Homo sapiens: one gene and its partners. The protein of the gene in region 4 purifies or fractionates together with the protein of the main gene of each other region. This does not show direct contact. Each region holds a gene or a part of one and is shown on either strand. Other genes may lie near its edges.

What was found.
Region 1: the proteins of C5AR1 (region 4) and MFSD8 purify together in Homo sapiens (affinity purification with mass spectrometry; one large-scale study listed by BioGRID and IntAct). This does not show direct contact.
Region 2: the proteins of C5AR1 (region 4) and ATP2B2 purify together in Homo sapiens (affinity purification with mass spectrometry; one large-scale study listed by BioGRID and IntAct). This does not show direct contact.
Region 3: the proteins of C5AR1 (region 4) and ATP1A3 purify together in Homo sapiens (affinity purification with mass spectrometry; one large-scale study listed by BioGRID and IntAct). This does not show direct contact.
Region 5: the proteins of C5AR1 (region 4) and RMND1 purify together in Homo sapiens (affinity purification with mass spectrometry; one large-scale study listed by BioGRID and IntAct). This does not show direct contact.
Region 6: the proteins of C5AR1 (region 4) and CIP2A purify together in Homo sapiens (affinity purification with mass spectrometry; one large-scale study listed by BioGRID and IntAct). This does not show direct contact.
Region 7: the proteins of C5AR1 (region 4) and TMEM161A purify together in Homo sapiens (affinity purification with mass spectrometry; one large-scale study listed by BioGRID and IntAct). This does not show direct contact.

Annotation. Positions count from the first base shown.
Region 1 is NC_000004.12:127,944,674-127,948,173, reverse strand, and holds part of MFSD8 (major facilitator superfamily domain-containing protein 8), read left to right. Parts: intron 1-3,500. UniProt on the Homo sapiens protein: Outward-rectifying chloride channel involved in endolysosomal chloride homeostasis, membrane fusion and function. Conducts chloride currents up to hundreds of picoamperes.
Region 2 is NC_000003.12:10,499,087-10,502,586, reverse strand, and holds part of ATP2B2 (plasma membrane calcium-transporting ATPase 2), read left to right. Parts: intron 1-3,500. UniProt on the Homo sapiens protein: ATP-driven Ca(2+) ion pump involved in the maintenance of basal intracellular Ca(2+) levels in specialized cells of cerebellar circuit and vestibular and cochlear systems.
Region 3 is NC_000019.10:41,977,231-41,980,730, forward strand, and holds part of ATP1A3 (sodium/potassium-transporting ATPase subunit alpha-3), read right to left. Parts: intron 1,569-3,500; coding exon 1,376-1,568; intron 1,097-1,375; coding exon 921-1,096; intron 843-920; coding exon 706-842; intron 1-705. UniProt on the Homo sapiens protein: This is the catalytic component of the active enzyme, which catalyzes the hydrolysis of ATP coupled with the exchange of sodium and potassium ions across the plasma membrane.
Region 4 is NC_000019.10:47,319,861-47,322,566, reverse strand, and holds the end of C5AR1 (C5a anaphylatoxin chemotactic receptor 1), read right to left. Parts: coding exon 1,737-2,706; 3' UTR 501-1,736; downstream 1-500.
Region 5 is NC_000006.12:151,445,627-151,449,126, forward strand, and holds part of RMND1 (required for meiotic nuclear division protein 1 homolog), read right to left. Parts: intron 200-3,500; 5' UTR 186-199; coding exon 1-185. UniProt on the Homo sapiens protein: Required for mitochondrial translation, possibly by coordinating the assembly or maintenance of the mitochondrial ribosome.
Region 6 is NC_000003.12:108,554,939-108,558,438, forward strand, and holds part of CIP2A (protein CIP2A), read right to left. Parts: intron 2,477-3,500; coding exon 2,280-2,476; intron 1-2,279.
Region 7 is NC_000019.10:19,135,679-19,139,762, forward strand, and holds the start of TMEM161A (transmembrane protein 161A isoform 1 precursor), read right to left. Parts: upstream 2,801-4,084; 5' UTR 2,751-2,800; coding exon 2,748-2,750; intron 1-2,747. UniProt on the Homo sapiens protein: May play a role in protection against oxidative stress. Overexpression leads to reduced levels of oxidant-induced DNA damage and apoptosis.

The DNA of each region.
Region 1 (3,500 bases), on a different chromosome or scaffold from region 4:
CTGCCCTGTTCATACCCAACTAGCTACCTAATGTAACACAGTCACTTCTTAAAGGTCCTACCTTTCAATATTTTAATAATATTAATTTAAATATTAATTTCCAAAAAATGAAATTTGGGGGACACATTCAAACCATGGCACCACCTCTTAGCTTCTGTGACATTTCTCTATCCTGGCTTTCCTCTTAACTCTAATGACTTATTCTTAAATTCTTTTGTGTATTCTTCCTTATCAGTTTATCCCTTGTTGGTTTTTCTATGAGGTTGGAGAGAGAGTGTGTGTGTGTGTGTGTGTGTGTGTGTGTGTGTGTTCACACGTGCATATGTGTGTTTTATCCTAGATTCTGAACTTTGTCCCATATTAGATGTATAGCCAACAATTTATTAGATAAATCCATGGTACTTGGATGAACCCAGGCTCCTCAGGTCTTTACACATTTGTCTCCCTTTTTACTGGAATGCTTTTCCTCTCTCCATCTTTCTTTTGCTCTCCCCTTTCTCCTTCCTCACTGTCTTTTATTCACTCTTCAAGGTTTTGCTCCAGTGTCACCTCCTCTGGAAAGCCTTCTCTCTCTCTCTGTTTTTTTTTTTTTTTTTGCAATGGAGTCTTGCTCTGTTGCCCTGGCTGGCATGCAGTGGCGTGATCTTGGTGCGCTGCAATCTCTGCCTTAAGGGTTCAAGCGATTCTCCTGCCTCAGTCTCCCAAGTAGCTGGGACTACAGACGCCAGCTACCACACCCGGCTAATTTTTGTATTTTTAGTAGAGACGGGGTTTCACCATACCGGCCAGGCTGATCTCTACCTGACCTCAGGTGGTCCACCCACCTCGGCCTCCCAAAGTGCTGGGATTTCCACCTCCTGGGTTCAAGCGATTCACATGCCTCAGCCTTCCAAGTAGCTGGGATTACAGGCACCCGCCACCATTCCTGGCTAATTTTTATAATTTTAGTAGAAGTGGGTTTTCGGCATGTTGGCTAGGCTGATCTCGAACGCCTGACCTCAGGTGATCCTGCCTCAGCCTCCCCAGTTGCTGGGGTTACAGATGTGAGCCACTGCACCTGGCCTGGAAAGGCTTCTCTCACTGTCCCTCACAACAATTTGGGTCAGAAGCTTTTCCTGTATACTCCCGTTTCCCTTTATCATTAGCCCTTAATATGGAGTGTCCTAACACTGTATTTACAGAGAGTTTACTTAACTCCCCTACTAGATTGTCTAGATTGTTAGGATTGTTTTTTTTTTTAATTTTTGTGGTTTTTTTTGTAAATGGAGTCTCGCTCTGTCACCCAGGCTCGAGGTCAGTGATGCAATCTTGGCTCACTGCAGCCTCCACCTCCAAGGTTCAAGTGATTCTCCTGCCTCAGCCTCCCAAGTAGCTGGGATTACAGTCGTGCACCACCACGCCCAGCTAATTTTTGTATTTTTAGTAGAGACAGGGTTTCACTGTGTTGACCAGGCTGGTCTCAAACTCCTGACCTTGGGTGACCCACCACCTCAGCCTCTCAAAGTGCTGGCATTACAAGTGTGAGCCACCATGCCCAGCCCAGTTTTTACGAATTTCTACTTTTTGAAAATGCTCTCCTAAAATATATTTTTAAAGGAATATAAGAAGAAAAGAAATACAAATTTTACTTTTTACTGGTTTAGTGCCATATTTTCATTGCTATTTTGAAAATAATATTACATGAAATTATTACCCATTACACTAAAAATTCTTTCCATGCTGGTAGTCATTGGAATTGGCACAATTCTGGAGCAACGTCTTCTCTACTAAAAAGATATTTTCATGTATCAAAATTCTTAATTTCTTGGCATTTAGTCTTTTTAGTCAAAATTCTCAAAAGAAGGATATTAGTAGTGATTAGGTCTACTCAGCATACTATGTTGAGTTTTGAAAAGTACTCTCTTTTCTCCAGATATTTTGAAAACTCTTTAAAGAGTCTTGCTATCAGGCCCAGTGCTGTGACTCACGTGCCTGTAATCCCAGCGCTTTGGGAGGCCAAGTTGGGAGGATTGCTTGAGCCCAAGAGTTCAAGACCAGCCTGGGTAACGATATAAGACCTCGTCTCTACAAAAAAATTTAAAAAGTTATCTGGGTATGGTGGTGCTACTCCCTGTAGTCCCAGCTGCTTGGGAGCCTGAGTTGGGAGGATTTCTTGAGCAAAGGAGTTTGAGGTTACAGTGAGCCAAGATTATGCCACTGTATTCTGGCCTGGGTGACAGAGCCAGACCCTGTCTCAGAAAAAAAAAAAAAAAAAAGTTTTGCTTTCAAACCACTACACATTTAACATTAAAATTGAGTTTTCATTGCTTTTTTGAAAATTAAAATTTTATGTAACATGAAATTATTATTTTCTATTTTAGTAGAGATGACAAATGAAGCTAAAGGTAATACAGGAAGAAAATGAAAACCAGAGTACCTAAAATGAAAGATATTTTAACGGCTAGAACTTTAAATATTATGTATCATTATACTTTTGCATATTATTTCTTATTTTTTTCATAAAGAAAAACGCACCTAAATATTTTCACTTTAAATATCTTTAGGGAATTACCAGGCACGGTGGCTCACACCAACAATCCCAGCACTTTGGGAGGCCAAGGCAGGCAGCTCACCTGAGGTCAGGAGTTAAGAGATCAGCCTGGCCAACATGGTGAAACCGCGTCGCTACTAAAAAAAATATAAAAATTAGCTGTGCCCACGTGGTGGCACATGCCTGTAATCTCAGCTACTTGGGAGGCTGAGGCAGGAGAATCGCTTGAACCTGGGAGGTAGAGGTTGTAGTGACCTGAGATCGCACCATTGCACCCCAGCCTGGGCAACAAGATCAAAACTCCGTCTCAAAAGTAAATAAATAAATAAAATAAAATAAATAAATAAATATCTTTAGGGAACAAAAGGTCATAGTTTTCCTTATTAAATTGTTCTACCACTTATCTATATTTGTTTAAATTTATTTCCTAAAATTTAATAAAAGCCATTAAATAGGAAGATTAGAGATAGAATCTTCCTATGTTGCCCAGACTGGAGTGCAGTGGCTTTTCACAGGTACAGTCATAGTGTGTTACAGCCTCCAACTCCTGGGCTCAAGGGATCCTTCTACTCTAGACTGCTGAGTAGCTGAGATTACAGGCATGGGCCACTTCGCCTGGCTTAGCCTACCACATATGAAAAAAAGTAATCTGGCTGAGTGCGGTGGCTCATGCCACTAATCCCAATATTTTGGGAGGCCAAGGTGGGAGAATTCCTCCCTCCCGCGGCAGGAGGATTGCTTTGAGAGTTGGAGGCGGGAAGTTCAAGACCAGCCTGGGCAACATAGGGAGACCCTGTCTCTACAAAAATAAAAAAATTAGGTGGGCATGGTGGTGCATACCTGTAGTCCTGGCTACTCAAGAGGCTGAGGCAGGAGGATCACTTGGGCCTCAAAGGTCGAGGCTGCACTGAGCCGTGATCGGACCACTGCGCTCCAGCCTGGATGTCAGAGTGAGACCCTGTCTCAAAAA
Region 2 (3,500 bases), on a different chromosome or scaffold from region 4:
AAAGGAAACTGTGGCCCAGCCAGGCACAGGGACTTGTCCAAGGTCACACCGTGTTCTGTAGAGACCTGGGCTTCTTGCAAGTGCTCTCAGGCCCCAGACAAGAAGCAGCAGAGGCCTGTGTTGGCCCCTGGTTTTCCCCAGGTGTTTGACTGTGGGTGGAAAGTATGAGAGCCCTGGGCCCAGCCCTGCTCCTGACCAGCTGTGTGATCTTGGCCAAGTCACTTCCTCTCTCTGCCCTCAATCTTCTCATCTGTGGCCAGGCAGGCCTATCTCTGCCCTGTTTTATGCCACAGCTGCCAGAGAGCCCTGGACACTGTAGAGGGCTGTGCACGAAGGTGTGATTGGCATCAGGATCAGGAGCCGGAGCAGGTGAGCACCTTGCTGCTGCAACTGGCCAACTCTGAGATCAGAAAGGGAAAAAAGGAAAGAAATCTCTAGTTTGCAGATCGGAGGTCAGAAAAGCTGCCTGTGGCTTATGCTATGTGCAGAGCCTGAAACACTGGCCCATCCGCCTGCTGTCCCACTGCCCTCCTCTGCCTTCCCCCTGCCCAGCCACAGGTATGGGTCAGGAAACCCATTAATGCATTAATTAACCTAAAGATCACCTGATGGGGGCAGATTTCTGGGCCCTACCTTGATGAATCAGGAGGTCCCAGGGGCTACATTTCCACAGGTACCCCTGGGTTTTCACCCATTTCACTCCGCACCCTGGGGAGCTGAGGTGCTTAAGAGTGGGCTTGGTGGAGCACATAGGCGCTCAGAGCTGGGGGTGGCCTAGACACCATGCTGTTCTGCCTGTACCTGTCACACGTGGGGAAACTGAGGTCTCCAGCCTAGTGGGTGACTGAATGAGACTGAAACTCATTTCCTCTCCCCACCAGTCCCCTACCAACCCCTAGCCCCTGGCTTCACCCTGCACAGCTAAATCAGGCCCTCCTGAGGACCGATGAACCCTCAAATCCAAAACAAGGCCATCTTCTCAGCAGACAGCTGGGAGCCATGCTCCAAGGGCACTCTCCAAGACCCCATCTCTACAAAAAATTTAAAAATTAGCAGGGTGTGGTGGCATACTCCTGTCGTCCCAGCTATGCAGGAGGCTGAGGTGGGAGGATCGCTTGAGTCCGGGAGGTCAAGGCTGCAGTGAGCCGTGATTGTGCCACTGCACTCCAGCCTGGATGACAGAGCGAGACCCTGTCTCAAAAAAAAAAAAAAACCGTTTAAAAAATGGGTTATGCTATGGAAAACTCCTGGGACCTCCTGCTGGGCAGTGTGGCTTCGGCTTCACCCCGGTCTTCACTTGACAGTCTGGATGGAGGCGGCGGGAGGCAGGGGGAAGCGGGAGTGACGGTAAAAGCCTTAGAAGTGTCATTCACAGTCTAGGAAATCTCTGCAGGGTCAGAGAGTTCCAGATATGTGGCCAGAGACCACGGCTGGCAGGACCAGGAGGGCAAGTGACCAGGCCCGAGCAGGGGCCACAGCTCAGGTTCCTAAAGAAACAGAGGTCCCTGGGTATGGGGGAGAGTGTGTTGGTCTGAGGGTCAGGAGAGCTGGGTCCCAGGCCGGCTCATCACTGGCGAGTGACCTTGGAAAAGCTGTGTAAGCCCTCTGGTCCCAAGCTCTCCCCTTGTGAGAGGGGTCAGTGATCCTGCCCCCCAGTGTCCTTGGTGAGGGCAGCTTCTCCTGCCCACTGCCCCTTGGGGTGAAGGGTCAGAAACACTGCAAGTCTCAGGAAGTAGCAAGGAGAGCAACTGCAGGGACAGCCCGTTGTGTTTGTTTTCTGTGGCTGCCATAACAAATGACCACAGGCTAGGTGGCTTCAAACAACAGACGTGTATTGTCTCCCACTTCTGGAAGCCAGAAGTCTAGAGTCAGGAGCCAGCAGGGTTGGCTTTTCCTGGAGAGGCTGAGGAAGAGCCTGTCCCTTGTCTCCCTAGCTACGGGCAGTGGCCAGCAACCCTTGCTCTTCCTCACCTTGTGGCTGCGTCACACCCATCTCTGCTTTCATCTTCACCTCACTCCTTCCTGTGTGTCTCTCGGTGTCCTCTCCTCTGCTTCTAAAGACATTGGTCATTGGATTTAGGGCCCAACCTAGACCCAAGATGATTTCATCTCAAAATCCTTAGCTAATTCCATCTGCAAAGATCCTATTTCCAAACAAGGTCACATTCTGAGGTTCCAGGTGGGCATGAACTTTGGATAGGACACCGTTCAACCCACTGCAGTCACTAAGATTTATGAGGTGTTTATTGCTCATAAGACCTGCACACAGTCTTATCTCTTCTTCACCATCACCCATTTTCCGGATTACAGAAACCAGGGCCCAGAGACATTAAGAATGTGCCCAAGTCAGGCCAGGCGCAGTGGCTCATACCTGTAATCCAAGCACTTTGGGACGCCAAGACAGGTGGATCACCTGAGGTCAGGAGTTCGAGACCAGCCTGGCCAACATGGCAAAACCCCGTTTCTACTAAAAATACAAAAAAAGTTAGCCGGGCCTGGTGGTGCATGCCTGTAATCCAGCTACTCAGGAGGCTGAGACAGGAGAATCATTTGATCCTGGGAGGTGGAGGTTGCAGTGAGCCAAGATGGAACCATTGCACTCTAGCCTGGGTGACAGAGTGAGACTCTATCTCAAAAAAAAAAAAAAAAAAAAAAGAATGTGCCCAAGTCACACAGCAAGTGAGGGGCAGAGCTGGGATTTGAACCCAGGTCCCTGGTGCTCCTTCACCTTTCCACCTTTTTGTAGCTGGCTGGGGGATGCCCAGAGACCCCTTAGGGCCCACAGCTAGGAATCCATGGGGCAGGAATTCCAGCCAGCCCTATGAAGACCCCAGGTCTGCAGGGGCTCCTGGGCACCAGAGAGAGGCTGGAGACAGGCAGGGGAGCTTCAAGGTGTGAAGGGGCCCAGCCGTGGTCCCAGGAGACCAACATGTGGCAGAGGATTGAGAGCCACAGTTCCTTGTCTCTGCCACTGACTCTGTGAACGTCATTGTGCTCTTCCGGAGAATAGGGGCAGCAGCACTGACTTTATGGGGTAATTGCCAAGTACCGAAATGTTCATCATAATAGTACTAATCGCTAAAATGTGTCCGCAAGCACTTTACAAATGCTTTTTGTTTTCCCATGTAATGCGTGGGAGGGGAATTGCTTATTCAGTCATGTGCGTTCGGTTGTGTGTGGTTGAACCAGTGACTTCGCCTCAGTTTGCTCCTCCGTAAACCAAGGGTTAGCTGAGCACCCATCTTCCCGGTTGTCACGTGAGGCAAACAGGATCCAAGTACAGGGCTTGGCCCGGGTGTGGTCCAGGTAGAGGCTCAGCGGATGTTTTCTTGCCTGTAAGATGGGATAGTGGTAGTATTATGATGATGCTATTATTTGTTGTATGAGGATTTGGTGAAGTAATGCAAAGGAAGCACTTGGCTCAGGGCCTCGCCAGAAATTGATGGAAAGTGGCCTCCTTTGTGGCATCAGAAAGATTTGAGTATAAATCCTAATGCCAG
Region 3 (3,500 bases), 5.3 Mb from region 4:
TGACAGACAGACAGGAAAAAAGAGAGACAGACACAGAAGTACTGGATTCTACTGAATCCTCTGAGATAGGAATTATTAGTAGCCCATTTTAGAGATGGGCAAACTGAAGTTCATGGATGCTAAAGGACTTGCCCAATGTCACACAGCTTGTGAGCGGTATAAGCTGGAATGCAGGCCGGGCGCAGTGGCTCACGCCTGTAATCCCAGCACTTTGGGAGGCCAAGGCAGGTGGACCACCTGAGGTCAGGAGTTCGAGACCAGCCTGGCCAACATAGTGAAACCCCCGTCTCTACTAAAAATACAAAAAAAAAAAAAAAAAATTAGCGGGGCATGGTGGAGGGCCCCTGTAATCCCAGCTACTCAAGAGGCTGAGGCAGATAATTGCTTGAACCCGGGAGGCGGAGGCTGCAGTGAGCTGAGGTTGCCCCACTGCACTCCAGCCTGGGCGACAGAGCAAGACTCCATCTCAAAAACATAAATAAATAAATAAAATAAAATAAAGGCTGGGATGCAAACCTATGCCTGGCTACCTCTGTGGCTGCAATGTCCCCACACCGGAGGGAGGGCCAGACCCAGGGCCTGGTCCATGGAGGAGTCCCAGAAAGAATGGGACAGGCAGTGCAGAGGGAGGTTGGGGGGAAGCGGTCCCCCTGTGTCAACACCCTAGAGGGATGTCCAGGGCCCTGGCTGGGATGGGTGGCTCACCGGGGGTTAACCTGGCTGACGGGAATGTTGAGCCGGGCGGCGATGTCCTCCACAGTCTCGTTGCCCTCAGAGATGATGCCCACACCCTTGGCAATGGCCTTGGCCGTGATGGGGTGATCGCCGGTGACCATGATGACCTGCAGGCATTGTTTTTTAGGGATGGCCTCTCCCGCCCCACGCCTGGCTTTGCCTCCCCCAGCCACCCCAAGCCACACCTTGATGCCTGCGCTGCGACACTTGCCCACCGCGTCAGGGACGGCTGCCCGGGGTGGGTCGATCATGGACATGAGGCCCACAAAGCAGAGGTTGTCCGTGGTGAAGTTCACGTCATCACAGTCGAAGGCAAAGCCCTTGGGGAACTGCTCCTCGGGCAGGTAATAATGGCAGAAACCTAGTGGCAGGGAAGGGTTGGGGTGTGAGGGTCCCAGCCTCGGAACCTCCGCCCCATGCCCCTAGATGTCTGCATCGCCCGCATTCCATCTCCCCATCAGCAAGACGGCCAGTCAGCATTCATTTCCTAGGATACCTTCCCCTCTCATCCATCCATTCATTCATTCATTCATTCATTTACAGTATATTCTGGGAGGCCCTGGGCTGAGACAGGCTTTGGGCAGCATCACAACCCTCCTTGCCCTCCAGGGACCCCAGAGCCCGCCCGGCAGCCTCGCACCAAGCACGCGCTCGCCCAGGCCACCGAGCTCAAGGTAGGCATTCTGGAAGGCCTCCTTCATTTCCTCGTCCAGAGGCTGCTCCTTGCCCTGTAGCAGGATGGTGGAGCAGCGGTCCAGGATGCGCTCGGGGGCACCCTTCATCACCAGCAGGTATCGGTTGTCGTTGGGGTCCTCGGTCTCATGGATGGAGAGCTGGGGACCGATCAGAGGGTGGCGTGCCTGAGCCACGCAGACACCAGGAAGCTCCCTGCCCCATCCTGTCCCCTGTCCAGAGCCACGGGTGCCAGGATAGGCCCACACCAGGGCTCCCCCACACTCTCTCACAGAGACCTCTGCTCATTCCTGTCCGCTCTGTCTATGTCATGGATATATATTTCTTTTTCTTTTTCTTTTTTTCTTTTTTCTTTTTTTTTTGAGACAGAGTCTCGCTCTGTTGCCCAGGCTGGAGTGCAGTGGCACGATCTCAGCTCACTGCAACCTCCACCTCCTGGGTTCAAGCAATTCTCCTGCCTCAGCCTCCGGAGTAGCTTGGGATTACAGGCACCACCACCACACCCAGCTAACTTTTGTATTTTTAGTAGAGACGGGATTTTGCCATGTTGGCCAGGCTGGTCTTGAACTCCTGGCCTCAAGTGATCTGCCCTCATCGGCCTCTCAAAGTGCTGGGATAACAGGCATAAGCCACCACGTCTGTGCTCCCCTCCTCCCACCCTGTTTTTTTTTTTTAAGACAGGGTCTCACTCTGTCACCCAGGCTGGAGAACAGTGGCGAGATCACAGCTCACTGCAGCCTTGATCTCCCAGGCTCATGCGATCCTCCCGCTTCGGTCTCCCACGTAGCTGGGACCACAGGTCCACACCACCATGCCTGGCTAATTTTTTATAGAGACATGCTCTCCCTATGTTGCCCACGCTGGTCTCCATCTCCTGAGTTCAAGCGATCCTCCTGCCTCGGTCTCCCAAAGTGCTGGGATTACAGGCGTGAGCCACCACACCCAGCTGTATGCTTCCATTTTTATGAAATGTCCAGAATAGGCAAAACCATACGGACAGAAAGTAGGTTAGTGGTTGCTTAGGGCTGGGAGTGTCGGGGAGGAGGGGGCGGGTGACAGCTGAGAGATGTGGGGTTTCTTTTTGGAGGTGATGAAAATGCTCTAAAATTGACTATGTGGATGGCTGCCTATATCTGCGAATATACTAAAACTATTAAATTATACACTTAGAGGGACGAGCTATGGTATGTTAATTATATCTTAATAAAGTTATTTTAAAAGCTCTGAGTCAACTCCTGTCTCTCTTTGGCTGAGAGCCCCCTGGAGGCTTGTGTGCTCCTCAGAGTCACAGCCAAGTCCTCTCCATGCCCGTGGGGCCTGACAGGATCTGGCCAGCACCCACCACCCCCACCACGCTCCCTGGCTCCCAGCCCCTCTGCACTGGCTGGCTGGCTGGTGTTCAGATGCGTCAGCACACTCCCGCCTCTGGGCCTTTGCACAGGCTGTGCCTGCTACCGGAGCGCTCTTCCCCCAGACACCTGCAGGGTTCCCTCCCTCAGCACCACAACCACTACGATTACCTCCTCATGCCTTTGTTATTGTCTGTCTTCTAGAACCAGAGCGTAAGTCTCAGAGAGGGGTGACTTCACCATGTCACTCACTACTGTGTGTACACCCAGCACCCAAAACAGGGCCTAACATGTGGTGGCTGGTCAAAAAATGTATACTGAATGGGCCGGGCATGATGGCTTATGCCTGTAATCCCAGCACTTTGGGAGGCCGAGGTGGGTGGATCACTTGAGGTCAGGAGTTCAAGACCAGCCTGGCCAACATGATGAAACCCCATCAATACTAAAAATACAAAAACTAGCTGGGTGTGGTGGTGCACGCCTCTAATTCCAGCTACTCGGGAGGCTGAGATATGAGAATCACTTGAACCCAGAGACAGAGGTTGCAGTGAGCCAAGATCACACCACTGCCTTTTAGCCTGGGCGACAGAGCAAGACTCCATCTCAAAAAAAAGTTTACTGAGGCCGGGCGCGGTGGCTCATGCCTGTAATCCCAGCACTTTGGGAGGCTGAGGCGGGCAGATCACGAGGTCAGGAGATCGAGACCATCCTGGCTAACACGGT
Region 4 (2,706 bases):
CCCAAAGTGCTGGGATTACAGGCATGAGCCACCACAGCTGGCTGGTCTGCACGCTATTTCTAGATAATCCATGCACATGCACACTACACAATCAAAGCAGAAATATTGTGATATGGTTTGGCTGTCTCCCCACCCAAATCTCAATTTGAATTGTATCTCTCAGAATTCCCATGTGTTGTGGGAGGGACCCAGGGGGAGATAATTGAATCATGGGGTCCGGTCTTTCCCTTGCTATTCTTGTGATAGTTAATAAGTCTCACAAGATCTGATGGGTTTCACAGTAGTTTCCACTTTTGCTTCTTCCTCATTTTCTCTTGCCACTACCATGTAAGTAGTGCCTTTGCCTCCTGCCATGACTGTGAGACCTCCCCAGCAATGTGGAACTGTAAGTCCAATTAAATCTCTTTTTTCTTCCCAGTCTTGGGTATGTCTTTATCAGCAGTGTGAAAATCGACTAATACCTACTGCAAAGTCAATTATTCACTAGAAATAACACAACATTTCAATATTCATTTTTATTTTCCTCATTAAAGTCATGTATACTTTTTTTTTAAGCTCAAAACAGGTTACATACTATATGATTCCATTGAATAACATTCTTGAAATGACAACATTATAGAAATGGAGAGTGGATTCCTGGTTGCCAGGGGTTAGGGACACGGCTGGGGTGTGGGGGTGGAGGGAAGTGGGCATCCTGGGGATCCCTGTGGTGATGAGAATGTCCTGTATCTTCACTGTATCAATGTCAATATCCTGGTTATGAGACTACATTGTAGTTTTGCAAGATGTTGCCATTGGGGGAGGCTGGGTGAAGGGTACACAAGATCCCTCTGTATCATTACTTACAATTGTGTTGAGTTTGCAATGATCTCAAAATAGAAAGCATAATTTAAAAACAAAGTACAAACAAAACTGCAGGTTTTTTAGGTGTTTTTGTTTTTGTTTTTGCTTTGCTTTTGAGACAGAGCCTCCCTCGGTCACCCAGGCTAGAGTGCAGTGGTGCGATCATGGCTCACCACAACCTCCACCTCCAAGTTCGAGCAATTCTCCCACCTCAGCCTCCCAAGTAGCTGGGATTACAGGCACCCACTACCATGCCCAGTTAATTTTTTGTATTTTTAGTACAGACGGGGTTTCACCATGCTGGCCAGCCTGGTCTGGAACTCTTGACCTCAGGTGATCCACCCACCTTAGCCTCCCAAAGTTCTGGGATTACAGGCGTGAGCCACTGCTCTCAGCCTAATTTTCTTTTTTAAATTAACTCACTTACAAGAGCTTAGATAACTCCATGGACTTCTGTTTTGTCCCAAAGAACTTTTGAGATTCCAGTTACATATTTTCCAACTTGCCATAAAATAAATACATTTTTTTTAAGCGAGAATCTTTCTACTTGTCTGTATTCTGAGTTCCCTGTTCACACCTATTGCCATATGGAAATATCCCAGATACACGGGTTTCTGTTTGTTTTTCAAAAGCCTGGGATGGAAAGATGGTGTGTGTGGGGGGGGTGGGGGGTGGGAGGGTGCTCCCTAGAAGGAAGTGTTCACCTTGCAAATGAGGAAGGATGAGAAGAGTCCCGCTGGAAAAGGAGGGACAAGTCTGGGAAAGACAGGCAACATGGAGGAGAGTTAGTTAGCTAAGGTAACACCATCCCACGAAAAGTGAAGTGAAAACAAGAGGGAGAATGGCCGGGAAGGAAGGGGACATCGGGCCACAGTGGCCCATGAGGCTGTCGCCTACACTGCCTGGGTCTTCTGGGCCATAGTGTCCACTGTGGAGCGCGTGAATGACTTGCTCTCCCTAACCACGGACTCTTCAGTCAACACGTTCCGGAGGAGGCTGGGGAGGGATTTCCGCAGTCGGCCCTGGAAGCCCTGGCCGGCCACCACGTAGATGATGGGGTTGATGCAGCAGTTGATGTAGGCAAAGGAGACACACAGGGAGTCCAGCTTCTTCAGCAGCAGGAAGGTGGGTGACGATGGCTCCAGGAAGGACATCATTATCCCCGTCACCTGGTAGGGCAACCAGAAGATAAAGAAACTGGCCACCACTGCCACCACCACCTTGAGTGTCTTGGTGGACCGCGTGGCCCTGCGGCTCCACGTCCGGAGCAGGATGAAAGTGTAACAAATCGTGAGCGTGAGTAGAGGCCACAGGAAGCCCAGGACCAGCCGGACGATGGCCACGGCTCGCTCCCGCCGTTTGTCGTGGCTGTAGTCCACGCCACACAACACCTTTGGTGGAAAGTACTCCTCCCGGACCACCCGGTACAGGAAGGAGGGTATGGTCAGCAGCAGGGCTAAACCCCAAGCCACGGCACAGGCGATCCAGGCCAAGCCAGCCCCTCGGAAGTTCTGGCACCAGATGGGTTTAAACACCAGCAGAAAGCGGTCGGCGCTGATGGTGGCCAGGAGCAGGATGCTGGCGTACATGTTGAGCAGGATGAGGGAGGGCAGGATGCTGCAGGCGGCCCCGCCAAAGGGCCAGTGGTGATGCTGTACAATGGACGTGAACAAGATGGGCAGCGCCAGGCAGGAGAGGAAGTCGGCTACCGCCAAGTTGAGGAACCAGATGGCATTGATGGTCCGCTTGGCCTCGAATGCCGTCACCCAGACCACCAGGGCATTGCCCAGCACTCCCACCAGGAAGACGACTGCAAAGATGACCAAGGCCAGGATGTCTGGAACACGCAGCGTGTTAGAAGTT
Region 5 (3,500 bases), on a different chromosome or scaffold from region 4:
AAACCACTAGCTGTTTTATCAGGAAGGAACAAATCCAAGCTTTGACGTATTGTCAGTGTGCTGCATGTTGTATTTTCAAATTCCTTAAGTGGTTTTAACATTAGATGACCGATTCTTCGGCACTGATGTGCTTTTGATAATATATGATGAGATCTGGCCACGGCTCTGAGGAGTGTGGCTGGCATTACCACATCCCAAGCTAAAAGAAAAGGAATTCAAAGTTCAAGTTTTTAAATTAATGTTTAAAACATATATAATATTTCCCTAGGTAGCAGGCATATTTCTGTTAGAAAAATTTGTAAAACAGATACATTCTAAGTTAATTCTAGTAAAAGAACAAGGTTAAAAATATAAGTACAGTGTTTCTGCCACTTTGCCTTTAGCAACATTTGGCCTTCTTCCTGGAAGATTACAAGATTATAAAGCTACTGACATAACAAGAACCTTAAAAAAAATAGTGATGGGACCACTTCATTTACTTCATTAGCATATCAAGTATATAAAAATCTGTGCTGGCCAGGCACTGTAGCTCACACTTGTAATCCCAGCACACTGGGAGGCTGAGGCAGGTGGATCGCTTGAGTCCAAGAGTTCCAGACCAGCTGAGGCAACATGGTGAAACCTCATCTCTACAAAAATGACAAAAATTTAAAAATTAGCTGGGTGTGATGGCAGCTCATGCCTGTAGTCCCAGCTACTCACAGGCTGAGGTGGGAGGATCACTTGAGCCCAGAAGACTGAGGCTGCAGTGAGTCATGATTGTACCACTGCATTCCAGCCCTTTTTCTGTCTCAGGAAAAAAAAAAAAAAAATCAGGAAAGGTTCCCAGAAAGATCTAAGCTGATTCTAGAAGGCGAAGGTGCTTTTCAGCTTGGGGCTGGGCATGGGAGTGCGAGGCATGTCAGATACACACATGAACATTCCAGACAAGGTAAACAGAATTTCCCCCTTATTTACAGTATGAAATGTGTTATTTTAAAGTTAGCCTATAGTAGGCCACACATGGTGGCTCACGCCTGTAATCCCAGCACTCTGGGAGGCTAAAGGCTGGGGGGATCACTTGAGGCCAGGAGTTCAAAACCAGCCTGGCCAACATGGCAAAACCCCATCTCTACTAAAAATACAAAAAAAAATTAGCCAAGCATAGTGGCTTTAATCCCAGCTACTCAGGTGGCTGAGATATAGAATCGTTCAAACCAGGGAGGGAGAGGTTGCAGTGAGCCAGGATTGCCCCACTGCACTCCAGCCTGGGCGACAGAATGAGACTCTGTCTCAAAAAAAAAAAAAAGTTAGACCGTAGTAATCAATAATTCTTTTTTTAAAAATAATATGTTAGGTGCTAGAGATAGATGAATCAATGATCTCAGAATTCAAAGTCTAGCAGAGGAAAATGAACGAGATGCACAAATTGCTCTAGTCCAGAGAAAGGAGCATGTGAAGAGTGTGGCATTGTCACAGAGGTGACATTTGAACTGAGTCTTGAAAGGGCAGAAGGATCAGCAAGTTAAACACCCCAGGCATGGAGTCCTATTCATCTCCCCATCTCGGGGAGGTAGGAGTGAGCTGCAGGAGGTAAGGACCAAAAGAGCCGATGGCCAGATCACCAAAGGATATATAAAGTCATCCTAAAAAGTTTCTACAGGTGGGGAGAAAGCTGAGCTTTTAACTCAGAGTCACACGGTCAAATGCATGTTCATGAAACAAATTTTTGGTGATGATATGTAGGAGGAAACAAGACAGACTCTGACATCACTCTGAGCGCTTTCTACATGCTAAGTGCTCGGCTTCACCTCATAATGATCCCATTTCACTGATTAGGAAACTGAGGTTTAAAGAGGCTAAGTGCTCACCGTTAAGAAGCTGCAGAGATGTAACTAAAATAAAACCCAGGCTTTCCCAATTCCAAAGTCAACACTCTTACCCACTACCTTGTATTTACTACCTCTCTTCAGGATAAGGACAAAGATGATTCACAGTGATATTTAGGAGGTAGAACCTGCTGCTTCCAAAATCCCTTCAAAAGCTCGCATTCTGTGCTTCATTCTAGTCCAATTGGCTACTGTAGTTCACCTTTAATTAGTACTATGCCATGCCAGTTGAACCACTTAATTTTGAAGAAACTATAAAATATTTTAGAAGTTTGTCTACAGTCCTGGATTCTTTTTATTCTCTTTGAGTAAATTCTTTTTTTTTTTTTTTTTTTTGAGATGGGAGTCTCGCTCTGTCACTCAGGCTGGAGTGCAGTGGTGCCACCTCAGCTCACTGCAACCTCCGCCTCCCCGGTTCAAGCGATTCTCCTGCCTCAGCCTCCCGAGTAGCTGGGATTACAGGTGTCTGCCACCATGCCTAGTTAATTTTTTTGTATTTTTAGTAGAGACGGGGTTTCATTATGTTGGCCAGGCTGGTCTTGAAATCCTGACCTCAGGTGATCCACCTGCCTTGGCCTCCTAAAGTGTTGGGATTACAGGCGTGAGCCACCGGACCCAGCCCATTTTTATCACTGCACCTTCTAGAAAGCCTAAGATTACATTTGTGCCTTACACTGTTTTTCTATCAGACAGGGCCCTATTGTCATTATCAATACATCGGACCTCCTCATCTCAGTTTCATCCATTTTACTCTCTAAGCACCACCTCCTATCTTTGCATCTCACTCCTTCTATTACCCAATTCCAATAATTCTTCAACCCCAACAGGACCCACAAGTCAATGATCCAACCACCTTTTCACTGTCTCTCACTCCCCATGACTTCACTTCCTCCATATCCAGTTTACACTCCATGGTCTACCATTCTAACCTCTCCCTTATACCCCTAGAATCCCTTGCATCCCTTTCTTCCCAGTCTTTCCCATTCATGAGCAGTAATAAGTATCTTTATAACTGCTAAGCCAAAAACGTGGGGTCCAGCTTGACTCTTTATTCTCCATATCCAACTTCTCAGTAAATCCCAAGGGCCTTCTAGGGACCACTGCTCATCATCAGTAATAATACTACCTGATCCAAACTGCTATCCTTCCCATGGATTATTATAATAGCTTCTTAACCAGTTTTCCTGATTCTGTTTTGGGCCCCCTACAGTTTCTTCTCAACACAGCAACCAAAGTGATCCTTTGAAGTTGAATCTCAACGCGAAATCTAGCTGTGGCTTCACGGTTCACTTAATAAAAGCCAAAGCCCTCCAACCAGGCATGGCGGCTCACGCCTGTAATCTCAGCACTTTGGGAGGGATCACTTGGGGTCAGGAGTTCCAGACCAGCCTGGCCAACACGGCGAAACCCCGTGTCTACTAAAAATACAAAAATCAGCCGGGCATGGTGGCATGGGCCTATAATCCCAGTTACTTGGGAGGCTGAGGCACGAGAATGGCTTGAATCTGGGAGGCGGAGATTGCGCCACTGCACTCCAGAATGAGCAACAAAGCGAGACTCTGTCTCAAAAAAAAAAAAAAAAAAAAAAAAAAAGCCTGGCGCGGTGGCTCACGCCTGTAACCCCAGCATTTT
Region 6 (3,500 bases), on a different chromosome or scaffold from region 4:
TATTTCACTAAGCACAAAGATTTTTAAAAAGCAACCCAAAAACCAAACCAAAACAAACAAAAAAAACCAGTAGCCAAACTTGGCCAGCAGTTTTTGTATCTAATCCATACAGGAATTTTAACAATCTGAGTTTGAGTGCCTTTAGACAGTCCTGACCATTACAAATGACCTTTTCCCCAGCCAGCTTCATTTACATGTTATCCACTTGTCCATTCAAGGAATTTCACCTTCTAGCCCCTAAATCACTAGCTGGAACATAAGCAGGTCTTAGAAACCACGTATTTTTCTTGGACGCTGCCTATCTCTTAGGTTCTCTATGTGAGACAAAGCAGGTATCCCCTTTTTAGGAGGTCTGAGGACCTCAAGCTGGAAAATAAAGGAAAATCCTGAGTTCACTCAAGGGAAATTCCAGGGACCTAGATAGCCCTAGAAGTAAATAAGTAACTTGTTAAACAGGAAGGTAATAGTAGCCTAAATCAAAGTTAACAAACTTAAGAGTACCAGTGATACTTGATTCTTTATAGAACTTAAAGAAAACAACTTAACACATGTCCCTGAGTTGTATTTCAGAGACCCGGACCCTCATTGAGGAAGCCCACTGACCAGATCCATTGACAAGTAGAGCTCAGGTAAGGAGAAAATGAAGGCTGAATTTTAACCACTGTTCTTTGTTCTAAGTTTCTTTCTCAGGGTCTTGAACAAAGTCACTCTCCCTAGCTAGTTAACATTTTTCTACTGACCCCAAATGTTTAAACAAAGCTGCTCTTCCTTAACCAACTGCAAATCGAAAAATCTTTGGGTCTACCCATGACCTGTAAGCCCCTGCTTCACAATATCCTGTCCTTTAAACTTAAACCAATGTATAACCTTTAACTATTTATTTATGATTTTTGTCTGTAACTTCCACTTTCCTGAAATTTACTCGCCTTTAAAAATCCTTGCTTGCAAGCTATTGGGGAGGTCAGTATTTGAGCATTTGGCTGCCTGCTCCTCCTTACTTGGCACCCTGCAGTAAAAGCCTTTTTTTCTATCACTGCAAACCTTGGTGCAGATACCTGGTTTTACTGTATTGAGCAAATGGAACCCATTTCAGTTCTATAACGTATTTTCTTCACTGCTGACGTTCTCAACTTGGCTTATCACTAATACTACACTTTATCAGTGGTGCCTCAAACAATCAGACTTTGTAAAAAGTTGCTGGGGTAAATATCCTGTTAAAAAATCACTTTGTCATCATTTTCTAGATACTATTCATTTCTCACCCTTCATTATTATTGATGGGAAATAAGCATATGTACCATGCCAAGCTAAAAATTTCTATATCTCTGTATTAACAACATAGAACAATCTTAAAATATAAAGCAATAAACAAGTTCCCCCAGAGTGTATTTACTTTTATGGGTTGGTAGAAAATACATAATTGTTCCTGGTCTTCCCTGTAATTCAGAAGTTTTACAACTGGCCTAAAAAGATAAAAGAGTTTATAAGGGAGGAAAAACCAATCAAACTTTGCTAGTAGGCACACAAATTGGTACAGGTTGAGCAACACTAATTTGAAAATCCAAAATCAGTCTAAAATCAAAAGTGCTCCAAAATATTAAACTTTTTGAGTGCTACCATTGTGTTCAAAAAGGACACTCAATCTGTATCACATTTTGGAGGAAAATTTAGAAATATCTATCAAAATATTAAATATACATACCCTTTAACTTAGCAATTCACCTATGTGAACTTATTCTACAGATGTAATCACACATGGAAGTAAACTATAATCAAGGATATTAAGAGATGAGTTAAACACTTACACCTAAATTTCCATTCTATTAGGCAGAATGATATGAAATTGCCAATATTCAACTACTTTTGATCTGCAGAAATGACCATTCAACCTAATACTAATTTGACAACTAAGTTTATTTAAAAATTATTAATGAAGTGCCTAACTATGCAGCAAGCACTCCTACAGGCCCTAGGGATCTGTCAGTGATCAAAACAGACAAACTTGTCCTTGTGGAGCTTATCTCCCAAATGACTGCTGACTGTTATGAATACATAAAAGAAGTCAACTGGAAAGACCTGTATTTTGTTTCCAACATTGATACTGAGTTTGAGGAAGCAACACTTCATTTCACAATGACTTAAGTTTCTTGCTAATTACTTACCTCATGTGTTATCAGAATATATGAAATGCTTACAAAAGGATTTTCGGGTCTCAGAAAAGAAATGCTGCATGTTCATTCTAGGTTCTAACCTTACACAGAAGATTTTACTTTATTTACCTCTGAAGAAGTTCCATGTAGGATTTTGTCAGTATTTCATGTTCTTCAGCCACAGACTCTAACTTCCTATTATGTTGAAAGAGATGCTCAATATCACTCTGCGCTCTTTCTGATTCAACTTGCTGCGCCTTCAGCAACACACTAAGCTCTTCATTTTTTCTCTCAACTTCTCTCAACATACTAGCAAGTGTCCGTGCCTCAAAAAAAAAAAGAAGATAGACTTTACCACTATCATCTATATCATATGCTCAACACATACCTACAATTTAAAAGTTTACTAAGTATCTAATAAGCTGGTATCTGTTGGGTCATGCAAAGCTGTATTAGTCACATATACTTAGGACTTTACTTCTAATAAGTTGGATACTGTTATATTTTTTTAACTTAATACATTATCTGATAAAAACAATCTCACTATGATCAAATTAATGGAAATGGATACAACTGCAGCAACATGAAGGTCGCGCTACATACAGTATTCAATTAAAAAGGTATGGTCCTCAGAGGTAGCCATTAACACTAAACTGCTAAGTGTGCACACCATCAGCATTCTCATTTCAGGTGAGAATTAAGAACAAAATCTTAACGACATCACAGATGCTTAATCAAACACTTAAAATTAAGCTAGTATAATCAAAGAATGTAACCTATACCATAACCTGCATGTATTTATTATGTGATATGAAACACTAAAAAAGCAGAAAAGTCGCTAGAATAAAAAGTTGGTTCCCCCCAGCCCTTTGGATTTTATTTTACAATGCTAGACAAAACCCTAAGCCTTTCTCTGTTTTTACGACTTTGTGAAGAACCTGTATCCAGTTATTTAGTGCTATTTTTATAAGAACTTTTCCAGTAACATGAATAAAATATTAAACTCTCTAATAAAATACAAGACATGTCCAACAGACAGAAAATATAAGAATGTGCTATGGGGAGAGGGAAAAATTATTTTAATATCACTAATGTTCTTTCTTGTAATTTGTGACAAATTCAACATACCAGTTAAGACAAATGAAACCATGTTAAAATAAGCAAAAAAGAAAGAAATATGGGGGAAAAAAAGAATACCATTATTCTGAAGAGACTTAAGAGGCATTTTACTAGTCACTTATTTTGATGCATCTTTCAAAAGCCAGGAACACTTTATTATAATTCATTCATTATAAATAATATCAAGTTGTATAGATTCCATTTGTATCTGCTGGGAATTTCATATTACTG
Region 7 (4,084 bases), about 28 Mb from region 4:
TGATTCTCCCACATCAGCCTCCCTAGTAGCTGGGATTACAGGCACTCGCCACCATACCCAACTAATTTTTGTCTATTTTGTAGAGACAGGGTTTCTCCATGTTGCCAGGCTGGTCTTGAACTCCTAGGCTCAAGCAATCCTCCTGCCTTGGCCTCCCAAACGGTTGGGATTACAGGCGTGAGCCACTGTGTCCGGCCTATTTTTATTTTTATTTTTAGAGATGGGGTCTTGCTATGTTGTCCAGGCTGGTCTCAAACTCCTGGGCTCAAGTGATCCTCCCACCTCAACCTACCGAGTAGTTAGGACTACAGTCATGTGCCAACACACCCAGCTAAGGCTTTTTTTTTTTTTAATTAGGAATTTTCTCACCCAGTTCTTAATTCAGAACACATTTTCATATACTTATTTTTAAACGTTTTAGAAGAATCAGTCTGTGGTGAAGCTGGGTTTTCCTGCTTGAATGCAGTAAATACCCATTTGCTGCCAGTAATTACATAATTATGTAAAATTATGTGCTCAGGAGAGCTGTCTACTAGTGTTCTGGAATTATCATCAAAATGAAATAAAGTTTATTTAATAGTAAAATTAATTATGAAAATAATCCTTTAATCAGGCATAAATAAGCTAAATTTAGTCGGAAAAACCCTAATGTGATGGGTACCGGGCCTAGCACGGTAATTCAAAATGACTGCTGAGGCCAGGTGCGGTGGCTCGTGCCTGTAATCCCAGCATGTTGGGAGGCTGAGGCGGGCTGATCACTTGAGGTCAGGAGTTTGAGACGAGCCTGGCCAACATGATGAAACCTTGTCTCTACTAAAAATACAAAAATTAGCCAGACATGGTGGTGGGCGCCTGTAATCCCAGCTACTTGGGAGGCTGAGGCAGCAGAATTGCTTGAACCTGGGAGGCAGAGGTTGCAGTGAGCCGAGATTGTGCCACTGCACTCCAGCCTGGGCAACAGAGTGGGACTCTGTCTCAAAACAAAATAATAATAATAATAAAATAAAAATACATAAAATAACAGACTAATAGGACATTTTCTCTGTACCTGTGACTTGTAAACTGAGACCAGAAATCTTTTTTCAGTAATGAGGTTGGTGGCGGCATCTTTCTCATCTCTAAGTCCTCATTGCTCGCCCTCCCCGGGACCCTAGTGCAGACTGGCTGGCTGGCACTTAGGGACCATGAGTGCCAGCCCATGGGCCCCTGCAAGCCAGTGGGTCAGGGCTGTTGAAGCCCCACCCTTCCCCTAGGACCCTGCCCTCCCACCCCCCAGTCTGTTTTTCTCCTCTCTCTCCGACCTCTCTCCTGTGACCTGCCAGGGTTTTAACCACCCAATCAGCCAGCCCATCAAAACCTCAGCACGGTGACACCTCCAGCCCAGACCTCTCTGCTGAGCTCAACCAGTAGCCTCCTCCAGGCTCTCCTGGGAGACCCTAGCACTCACCCATCATCCCATACCCTTCCAGGTGGTTCAGGCCCTTCCCAGTCTCACAGTCAGCCCCCAACTTGGTTCTGCACCCTGCAGGCATAGCTAGAGACCATCCCTCCACCTCCCCACAGCTCAGCTCTCTCCTCAGCCCTCCCTGCACCCAACCACTGGAGTCTCAGAGGTCTTCCTGGACCTTTGGGCTCTTCATCAATGACCCCACCACCCCCCAAAACCCCCCAAGGGAAAAGGTGGTGGAGGGGTGCATCTCTCCACCTAAGGCTCCCAGAGGTCTGTCCAGGGATGTTCTGATGGCCCTGCCCTCCACCCAGCCTCCTGTCTCAGGGTCAGGGCTCTGCAGACATCTGCAAGAATTTTCTGGAGTCTTCCATCAGCTCCTTCTTTTCCCTTCACTGGATTTACGATTCTCGAACTCAAGAACCCTGATAAAATCAATGCAGCCTCCCTCCTCATTCCCGGGAGCCTGTGCCTTCATCTCCTACGGCGTCCTGCACCTCCGCCTGGGACGACGCCCCACTTTCAATAATTCCGGCCATCAGTGCCCTTCCTTCAGGGCCATCTCCAGCGCCCCTCCTCGGGGATGGTCCCAGGCAGAGACCCTCCAGTTCCACGTCCCTCTCTCTGCCCAGGCCGGTCCCGTCAGGGTTGTGGGAGTCCCCCATCTCCCTGCACCAGCCTGACCCCCAGGGGCTGGGCTAAGTTTTAAGAACACACTCAATAGGTTGGACCCAGAGCCGCGTGAGACCTGAAGGTTCCAACTTTCCTGTCTCCCACTCTGAGAACCTTGCCCGCCCTGAGGCCAACCAGACCTCCTGAGTCCACCTCCCACGGCCTCCCCTGCCCGTTCCACACACCCCGATATAGCAGGGACCCCCGATGGATCCTGTCGGCGCGGCCCCCACGCTCCTGCAGGACCCCCGTCCCCAGAGTGGACCCCCAACAGGACCCCACACCGCCTTAACCAGGTTCCAAATGTGCTGGGGTCCCCAGTCCCCTCTGTGGGACCACGACCCCTCAAAAGGATCCCAGACCCCTAAAAGGTCTCGAGGGCAGAATCCCCAGAACGCTTAGGGGCTTCTAGTCCCCCTGGGTACAACTCCCGCCGACTCCCTCGGAGGTCCTGTAGCGAGAGCAGGGCTCCCAGAGAGGGACACACGGCCTTCAGCGTGCCCCCGAATCCCTCAGAGCCTCCAATCCCCAAGAAGAAACCCCAATCCATTCCCTCAGTGTCTCCCTGGACCCCTTCGGCTGGACCTCGGCCCTGCAGAACCCCCCACTTCGCGGGACGCTCGCTCACCATGACGCGTGCGAGAACGCGGTGCACTCACCCACCGGCCTAGGGCTCCGGGCACTCTGCGGAAACTCGACCAATTAGAGCCCGACTCTGGTCTGACGAGCATCCCGTCCGACCAATCAGTGTGTCTTGAGCCGGCAAATCACCAGGGACGAGGAGGCCGCTCGCGTTGCATGCCGGAAATTGTAGTTCAGATACGCTGGTTCGGATCGATCAAAGTGAAGATTGTGTCTGGGAGGCCTGCGTGGCCGACCTCTCTTAAGGCTTAGTTTTCTCTTTCCTACACTTATCTCAAAGGTTTGCAGCGAAAGCATTTATTCCCACCTAAGGGACATTTCTGAGAGTAGAATTCCCTCCCCCCATCAAGAACATTCAATGGCTCCCACTTAGTAGACGAAGTACTTAGTACTCCTAAGTACTAAGTAGGCTAAGTACTCAGACTGAATTCAGACCCTTCTGCCTGACTTAAATCTGCTGCTAGCACTATTGTGCACCCTATAGTACAACTTGCACCCACCATGCTGTCTCATACCTCCAGGCCTTTGTAAATATCCTACATCTTGCAATGCCTTCAAGAATGCCTCAATCTTAAAATAAAAACAAAACAAAAGCAAAAAAGAATGCCTCAATCTTTTTCACCTGGCAAGTGCCTTATTCATCTCTATCAGCTAGGACTCTGGCTGTGCTCCACAAAATATCAACTAACATGGGTTCAAGCAAAAAAGGAAAATTTTTGGCTCATGTGACAGAAAATACTAGCCATAGTGTCAGCTTCAGGCGTGGCTGGATCAAGGACCAAATGTCAGCTTCAGGGATCTGATGTTCTTTATTTCACCGCTAGGAGGAAAGGGCTTCTGGTGTTTGTGCCCCGGTTTTGCCATTTGTCTTTCTGTGGATGAGTGTGTCTGCCTGAGTGTAGACATATATTGGGTATGACTGAGTGTCTGAGCATCTTTATGGGGGTGGGTTCCTGTGTGTGGGGCCTGAGTAATTACCTTTTCGTTTTTACATTTTATTATGTATTTGTGTATTAATTTTTTTTTTTCTTGAGACGGAGTTTCGCTCTTGTTGCCCAGGCTGGAGTGAAATGGTGTGATCTTGGCTCACCGCAACTTCCGCCTCTTGGGTTCAAGTGAGTCTCCTGCCTCAGCCTCCCGAGTAGCTGGGATTACAGGCATGCACCACCACGACTGGCTAATTTTGCATTTTTAGTAGAGATGAGGTTTCTCCATGTTGATCAGGTTGGTCTTGAACTCCCGACTTGAGGTGATCCGCCCACGTCGGCCTCCCAGAGTGCTGAGATTACAGGCGTGAGCCACCGGGCCTGGTTTATATTTTAT